Regions from separate parts of the Homo sapiens genome. Here regions 2 and 3 are each linked to region 1. The links come from fine-mapping of genetic effects on gene expression. A gene starts in region 1. Each other region holds a variant in brackets. All regions are shown on one strand. Distances are between the middles of the regions.

The links. PIP is the estimated chance that this variant, and not a neighbour inherited with it, causes the effect. A credible set is the group of variants that fine-mapping cannot tell apart.
Region 2: its variant is the best candidate, but not a certain one, in a credible set for the expression of HOMER2 in skeletal muscle (GTEx, PIP 0.64).
Region 3: its variant is the best candidate, but not a certain one, in a credible set for the expression of HOMER2 in whole blood (INTERVAL, PIP 0.74).

What each region holds. Positions count from the first base shown.
Region 1 is chr15:82,951,182-82,953,944 of GRCh38, forward strand. It overlaps HOMER2 (homer scaffold protein 2), which reads right to left and starts at 1,539. Exons shown (of 9, transcript NM_004839.4): 1 at 1,350-1,539. The coding sequence starts at 1,354. RefSeq lists an enhancer at 789-1,289.
Region 2 is chr15:83,233,521-83,236,283 of GRCh38, forward strand. No RefSeq gene overlaps it. Among named protein-coding and RNA genes, the nearest start is that of HDGFL3, 27 kb to the left of the region's middle. The variant G/A (reference allele first, on the strand shown) is at 1,472.
Region 3 is chr15:82,974,052-82,976,814 of GRCh38, forward strand. It overlaps a transcript of HOMER2 not described here. Among named protein-coding and RNA genes, the nearest start is that of RAMAC, 11 kb to the right of the region's middle. The variant G/C (reference allele first, on the strand shown) is at 1,525.

The DNA.
Region 1 (2,763 bases):
GCTGTTCATGTGAAATCTCCTAAATGTAAGCACACTTCTTCAGCCCTCGCTGCTCATCTCGCCTCCTCCTCTCTGTCACCCACCTCTGTCATGTCCAGTTCATGTTGGCCCACAGCCCTCACACTTCCATTCCTCAAAATTCCTCTTGGCCTGCCTCTGATCCCCTCACACACTCTGCAGCTCCCATGGCTAAGACTCACCAGGCAAAATGACTCCAGAAACTTAACCTGGAGTACGGTGCAAGAAAGCCACTGACCCAGGGGGGCTGAGCCAGGGCACCAGGACAATCTTGCTCCTTCCACTGCACTCTTGCCTTCCCAGGCCCCACCCATCCCAAACAGGAAAGCAAGATCTCTAGACCCTTGGAGCAGAAGCATTTGAGTCCTGCGAAGGGCTGTTGGAAGAATGCTGGGTTCAGCAGCAGGGAACAGAGAGATTTAGGAATTCTGGTTCACTTACCCGCCTCCATGCCCACGTCAGGCAGTGGCAAGGCCACCCCTGCTACACAAATGCTCATCAACTACACAGCCTGGGGGAAGTCACCGAACCACTTTGTGCCTCAGTTTCCTCATCTGTAAAGTGGACATAAGTGTCCCCTGAATACGTATGGCAAACCGTCAACGTGTGCCCAAATAGAGTGAGCAGATGTAAGGAGTTATTGTGCTATTAGCACAGTGGCTCCCAGACTCACAGAGCCTACTGCTCAGAGAGACGCCGAGGGGAAAGCTTAAATTACTTTATATACTCAGAAGCATTAGTCACTTCGACAGAGTATTTCAACTTCCCTCCTGAGCATCTACTCAGTTGTTTCAAAGACTGAAGCCTCACCTAGGTTCCTTATAGACTTCCATCATCTTCAGCATCTCAAAGCAGATCCAAAGTCCACTATTCCTACGCTGGAGGTTTATTATTATTTGATTATTTCCAGGAAAACTTCGATTTCCATTTTGCTTGTAATAAATCCAAACGTGGAGAACGACAAACTGCTTAGACTCACACAGGCCCTGGAGTTGACTGCGCCCAGGGGCGAAGAGACCGCGGAATGGCCGAGGCAGGAGGCCGGCCAGGGCACCGGTCCCCGTCAGGTGCCCCCGTGCCCGGGCTGTATGGGAGGGGAAGGGCCACGGGCTCCGCGCCCAGGCCAGGGTGCCCCTGCTGGGTGTCCGCGTGCCCCGGCGGAGGGCGCGGGTCAGGTGGCCCCAGACTCCCGGGCGCAGAGTGTGCGCTCGCTCCGGCTTGGGGAGGCGGGGGCCGGCCCGCCGGGAGGCTCCGAGCCCGGTTACGCCAGCCGCGGCCCCGCAGTCCCTCCGGAGGGGCGCGCGGAGAGCGCGCGGCGCGGGCTCACTCACCCCATCTCCGGCGCTGCTCCGGCGGCCGCTCCGACGGGGCCTCTCGCGCTCGCTCTCCGCCCGCTCGGCAGCCGCTCCCCGCGCGGCACATGCGGCGGCCCGTGCGCGCCCGGCTCAGCCCCGGCGCCGCTCCATTCCGCGGGGCTGCGCGGCTGCCACTGCTGCCACTGCCGCCACCGCCGCCAGGCGCGGGCGGGCGGGGGCTGGGCGGCCGCGCTGGGGCGGTGCCCGCCCCGCCCTCCCCAGCCGCTACCCCCGCCCGGCTCCTTACGTAACCTCGTGGCCCCCGGGCCGCGGCAGCGAGCCAAGAGGCGGGGGGCGCAGCACTGTGTGCACCGTCCCCCGCGCAGCCGCGCAGTCGCCGCTTTTCTCCCGGGCCACCCAGTCCTCGGTGCCGGCCCCGCGTTGGCGCGCCCCCGCCCCACGCCGACCCGGGGCCCTGGCGCAGTGCCATCAACATCCTGCCTGATGGACTTAAAGTCCCATTCACACCTGGCGGGGACTTTAGGGCTACCTTTACTTTGCAGATAAGGGAACCGAGGCCTGGGGAGGGTAAGTGATTTGCCCAAGGTCACACATTCAGATTAGAGTTCGTTCGGGTCTCCAGAGTCTGAGATGGGCATAGCTGTGCTCCTCCTTAAAGCCCACCTTCATCTTCCTGCCAGTTGCCCGGCCGAGTGGCCTTAAGGTACCCGCCACCGTGAAATTTCGGAAGCCAGCCTGGCAGAGAAGAGCCTACAGGCCGCGGCAGATGCTCTGGGCTCTTTCCTGGATAAAAATGAGATGAGGGCTCCCACTTGAAGGGGCAGTTTTAAGGCGGCTTCATCAAGCTTGGTTTTATCCTTAGAGCGAGGGGAATTAGGATGGCAAAAGTAGAACTTGAAGAAGAGCAGGCTCTCTTCGTCGCCTTTCTACCTATCAGGTCCTGAGTTTCTACCAAAGGCTGGCACTGGGACTAACCTAACCTTCATCCCCCGGGACTTCCACGGGATCATCTTCTGCTGGGAACACACCGCCCACATAAGCCTGGCATCTCAGGACAGTAAAAAAGTCAAGGGACAGGTCGGGCGCGGTGGCTCACGCCTGTAATCCCAGCACTTTGGGAGGCCGAGGCGGGCGAATCACGAGGTCTGGAGATCGAGGCCATCCTGGCTAACACGGTGAAACCCCGTCTCTACTAAAAATACACACACACAAAAAAAATTAGCCGGGCGTGGAGACAGGCGCCTGTAGTCCCAGCTACTCCGGAGGCTGACGCACAAGAATCGCGTGAACCTGGAAGGCGGATCTTGTAGTGAGCCGAGATCGCACCACTGCACTCCAGCCTGGGCAACAGAGCGAGACTCCGTCTCAAAAAATAAATAAATTAATTAATTAAATACATAAATAGCCGGGTGTGGTGGCGTGCTCCTGT
Region 2 (2,763 bases), 280 kb after region 1:
TCCGTCTCAAAAAAAAAAAAAAAATAGCCCACTACATCAATGATACAATGATGACTGGTTCTGATGACCAGGAAGTAGCAAGTATCCTAGATGTCATATTAAGACACATGTGTGCCAAAAGGTGGGAGATAAAAACCACACAAATTCAGGGACTTAGGGAGGTTTTTGGAAGTTCATGAGCCTAAAGCATGTTGGAATATCTCTTCCAAAGGGATTGACATGTTACTCTAATTGCACTTTCTACCATTAAAAAAGAGGTTTCCTTTTTAATGCTTGACTTGCTTCTGGAGGTCAATGTATGGTATATTTGAGTGTGCTCCAACTCAGTACCTTGATAGTTTTGAAGGGGGCTCCAAACACGAAAAGTCTCTGCATCAGGTCCAAGCTGTAGTAACAAGCTGTTTTGCTACTTGGACCTTCTGTGCCAGATGTATTTTATAGGTTTATGGCACAAAGAGATGTTCAGTGAGGCCTCCTGAAAAGCCCTGAAGGAGAATAACAGAGCAGGTCTCTAGGATTTGAAAGCAAAGTCATGCTTCATTCTCCAATTGAGAACTAACTCTGACTGGGTTCCTGTAGAGCTAGATTGTTTAACCATGGAACATCAAGAGACCACGTAATCTTAGTTTCCTCTTATGAACTAGGTGTTATCTGATTCATTAAGCAATAAGGGTGAGCATTCACAGCACCAATTATTAATTAAATAGAAATTGTATAATAGGGATCAAAATTAAGCAAACCTGAAGGCACAAAGAAATTACATATGACACCTACCCCTGCTTCACTGTTCCTCTCCCTCTGTGTAGTCCTATAATTTGCTGGTGAATTCCTTATTACCAATTGGCTTAGGAAGAAAAACTGAAACCTAATGATACTTGTACGAACAGGAAGTAGACTGCTGTAGCATTACAACCTCAGAAGGATTCCTGAAAGACAGTGTTGAAGAGAAATTGTCTCACCTAACAGAACTTCAAGCAGTCCATTTCACTGGCAACTGGGTCAATGTGAAATACTCAGAGGAGAGAATCTGTATTGGCCCATGGGCAGGGGTTAAAGAATTGGCCAGTTGGTCAGGGACATTGGAAAAAATAAGATTGGCAAATCAGTGAGAAGGGATCTAGGGAAGAGATATGGGGATGGACCTATTTAAAAGTGCACAGAGTGTGAGGATATTTGTGTCCAATGTGGATGTTCACCAAGGGCACCTACTATAGAATAATCATGTAGACAGGAAGACATGCTCTGAGGAGGTTAGCCAGCCCCTTTCCCACCCAATGTTTCCTCAATTGCTCATGTTCAAAGTGGCCATGATGGCAGGGATGGGCATAACAGCATAGACTTTCCCTCACCAAAGATGATCCAGCAACCATTGCTACATGTCTCACCTCCCAGCAGCACAGACCAGTGCTGATCCCCAATGTGGAGTGGGTGATAATTTGTTCCCATTGAATAATCAATTGATATGGACATG[G/A]ACTTATCTTTTCTGTCTGCAATGCTTCTGATAGCACCATCCTCCCTAGACTTATGGAATGCTTTATTCATCACCAAAGTATTTCATACATCACTTTTGACTAAATAATTCATTTTACAGAAATAGAAGAGTCACAGAGGCTCATGCCCATGTCATTTACTGGTTGTACCACATATCCAAACACCCAGAAACCAGTGGCCTGAGAGAACAGTGAAATAGCCTACCAAAGACAATTACAGTATAAATTGGAAGACAACACTCTAGGTTTGGGGTATATTCTACAGGGTGTGTGTGTGTGTGTGTGTGTTTGTGTGTGTGTGTGTGTGTAACCAGTAATCAACATATGTGCTATTTTTTCCACAGCCAGAATACTCAAGTCTGGGGATGCAGGTGCAGAAGTGGGAGCATATCCTAACGCCCCACTCACAGAATTTTTGTTTCCTATCCTTGATAAGGTTCTGCTGGCTTAGAAGTCTTAGTTCTCCACGGAGGAATGCTTCCATGAGGGAACATAATTGATTTACATTTTTTATTTATGAGTTGGGACTACCATTGGCCATTTTGGACTTTGTATGTCTCTCAACTAACAGGCAAAGGAGGTTATTGTATTGGCTGGAGTAATCCCAATTACATAGGGGAATTTAGTTGCTAAGACATAATAAAGCTCAGTAGATTCTCTAGGGTACCTCTTAGTACCATGTCCAGTAGAAAAAAAGCTAATGAAAAACTAAATGAAGACAAATGGGGATCAGACCTTTCAGGAATGAAGGTTTGGGCTACTCCAAAGAATCTGGGTCAGTTGAGATACTGGCTGAGGATAAAGGGGGTTGAAATGTACAGTGAGATAGGAAGCTCTATATAACAACTACAGCTTCAGTACCACGTACAGAAATGGGGTGAAGCAGCTATGTATATTTTTTCCTTGCTTGATATGTACATATACATCTGTATGTATTATTTTTCCTCCCTACTTCTCCCTTGTTTTTTAGATAAGGGTTACTCTTAGTCTAATTAGGTTCCAAATGATTCTCATGGGATTCCAGCTAAACTAGAAGAGAAAGTAGCATCACACAGAGATGGATATGGGGACTGTTATGAGTTTACCTATTATTTTTTGGGGGAAGGGGATGAGAACTTCTTTGTTGTTCTTGGTTGTGTCTTGATAGGTGGAGGCATGGAGTTGTTATTTTTCTTGGAAATTTAAAATATGAGCAGAAGAGTGTGTATGAATGCTTAGTAGAGAGAACTGTTCCAGTTATTTACCTATTGTTTCCTAGCTTCAAATTCCCCTT
Region 3 (2,763 bases), 23 kb after region 1:
CGTGCCACTGCACTCCAGCCTGGGTGAAAAAATTAAGCCAATGTCCTTCCCACTTAAAAATACTAAAGATCAGCCAGCCGTGGTAGCTCACACCTGTAATCCCAGCACTTTGGGAGGCAGAGGCGGGTGGATCACCTGAGGTCAGGAGTTCGAGACCAGCATGACCAACATGGAGAAAACCCATCTCTACTAAAAATACAAAATTAGCCAGCCGTGGTGGCACGTGTCTGTAGTCCCAGCCACTCGGGAGGCTGAGGCAGGAGAACAGCTTGAACCCGGGAGGTGGAGGTTGCAGTGAGCCGAGATCGCGCCATTGCACTCCCGCCTGGGCAACAAGAGCAAAACTCTATCTCAAAAAAAAAAAAAAATACTAAAGGTCTCCATAGAGCAAAGGTTCTCCACTCACCTATGGGAGGGGCAGACTTCTACCTACCATGGTGAAAACAGAGTCAATACACGACAATGTCTAATTAGAATGAATATGCTCTAATCTGAGGAGAGAGACATATTTCCCTAGGTAAGGGTCACAGTTCATATTCCAAATATGACTGGGATGATATTGCACAGGGGCTCCCTGGGGGCACTTGGGAGAGAAGACTAGTAAAGAGCTCTGTGAGTCACCCCACAGGGAAATGCAGCAGTCTTGGAGTCTGTCTCTGAAGAGTATTCTACAAGAGAATTAGGACCCACTGTGAGCCACTGTGCCTAGCCGACATTTCTTAAAAGAAGACATACAGGCCAGGCGTGGTGGCTCATACCAGTAATCCCAGCACTTCGGGAGGCCGAGGCAGGTGGATCGCCTGAGGTCAGGAGTTCGACACCAGCCTGGCCAACATGGTGAAACCCTGTCTCTACTAAACATACAAAAATTAGCTGGGCGTGGTGGTGGGCGCCTGTAATCCCAGCTACTCGGGAGGCTGAGGCAGGAGAATCACGTGAACCCAGGTGGCAGAGATTGCAGTGAGCCAAGATTGCACCACTGCACTCCAGCCTGGGCAACAGAGAGACTGTCTCAAAAAGAAAAAAAAGACACACAAATGGCAAACAGGCATATGAAAAGGTGCTCAACATCACTGATCACCAGAGAAATGCAGATCAGAACTACAATGAGGTATCATCTCACCCCAGTTAAAATGGTTTATATCCAAAAGACAGGCAATAAATGCTGGTGAGGATGTGGAGAAAAGGGAAGCCTCATACATTGTTGGTGGGAAGGTAAATTAGTACAACCACTATAGAGAACATTTTGGAGGTTCCTCAAAAAACTAAAAACAGAGCTACCATATGATCCAGCAATCCCACTGCTAGGTATATACCCAAAAGAAAGGAAATCAGCATATCAGAGATATCTACACTCTCATGTTTGCTGCAGCACGGTTCACAATAGCTAAAATTTGGAAGCAATCTAAGTGTCTATCAACAGACAATTGGATAAACAAAGTGTGGTACATATACACAATGGAGTACTATTCAGCCGTAAAAAAAGAATGAGGTCCTGTCATTTGCAACACCATAGATGGAACA[G/C]GAGGTCATTACATTAAGTGAAATAAGCCAGGCACAGAAAGACAAACATTGCATGTTCTCACTTACTTGTAGGATCTAAAAATCACAACAATTGAACTCATGGAGATAAAGAGTAGAAGGATGATTACCAGAGGCTAAGAAGGGTAGTGGCATGGTAGGAAGGTGGGGATAGTTAAATAGTACAACAAAAATAGAATGAGTAAGACCTACTATTTGATAGCACAACAGAGTGACTACAGTAAATAATAACTTAATCATACATTTGAAAATAACTAAGAGTGTAATTGGATTGTTTGTAACACAAAGGATAAATGCTTGAGGGGATAGATACCCCATTCTCCATGATGTTCTTATTTCGCATTGTGTGCCGGTATCAAAGCATCTCCTGTGTCCCATAAATATATACACCATGAACCCATATAAATTAAAATTAAAAAAATTTTAAATAAAATAAATTTAAAAAGAATGGTCAGTCTGCATCCTCTGCACCCAAGAATCCATATTCCTCACAGGAGCTCACTTCTGGCAATCCACATAGTGTGTGTGTGCACGCACTCCGTGTATATGCTTGTTGCAGAATCACCTTCTTCAGTAAATTTCTCAGGGTTAATTTCACTTTCCTCTTATTCTTCCTTTACCCTGAAGTACCTCTATACTTATATATCTAGTTGCAATTATCTCTCCCTGCATCCCATTAGATTATCATGCACTATTTATTTATTTATTTATTTATTTATTTTTGAGACGGAGTCCGCTCTGTCGCCCAGGCTGGAGTGCAGTGGTGCAATCTCAGCTCATTGCAACCTCCGCACCCCGGGTTCAAGCGATGCTCCTGCCTTAGCCTCCCAAGTAGTTGGGATTACAGTCACCCACCACCACACCCAGCTAATTTTTGTATTTTTGGTAGACACAGGGTTTTGCCATTGTTGGCCAGGCTGGTCTCGAACTCCTGACCTCAGGTGATCCACCCGCCTCGGCTTCCCAAAGTGCTAGGATTACAGGCATGAGGCCACACTATTTTATATACTGCATATATTACCATCATAACTATCTTCTGGTTGACTCTACAATTAGTACGATTAGATCTTAAGATTTGTGTGTGGTTTTTTTTTTTTTTTTTTGAGACAGAGTTTTGCTCTTGTTGCCCAGGCTGGAGTACAATGGCGTGATCTTGGCTTACTGCAACCTCTGCCTCCAGGGTTCAAGCAATTCTGCCTCAGCCTCCCAAGTAGCTGGGAT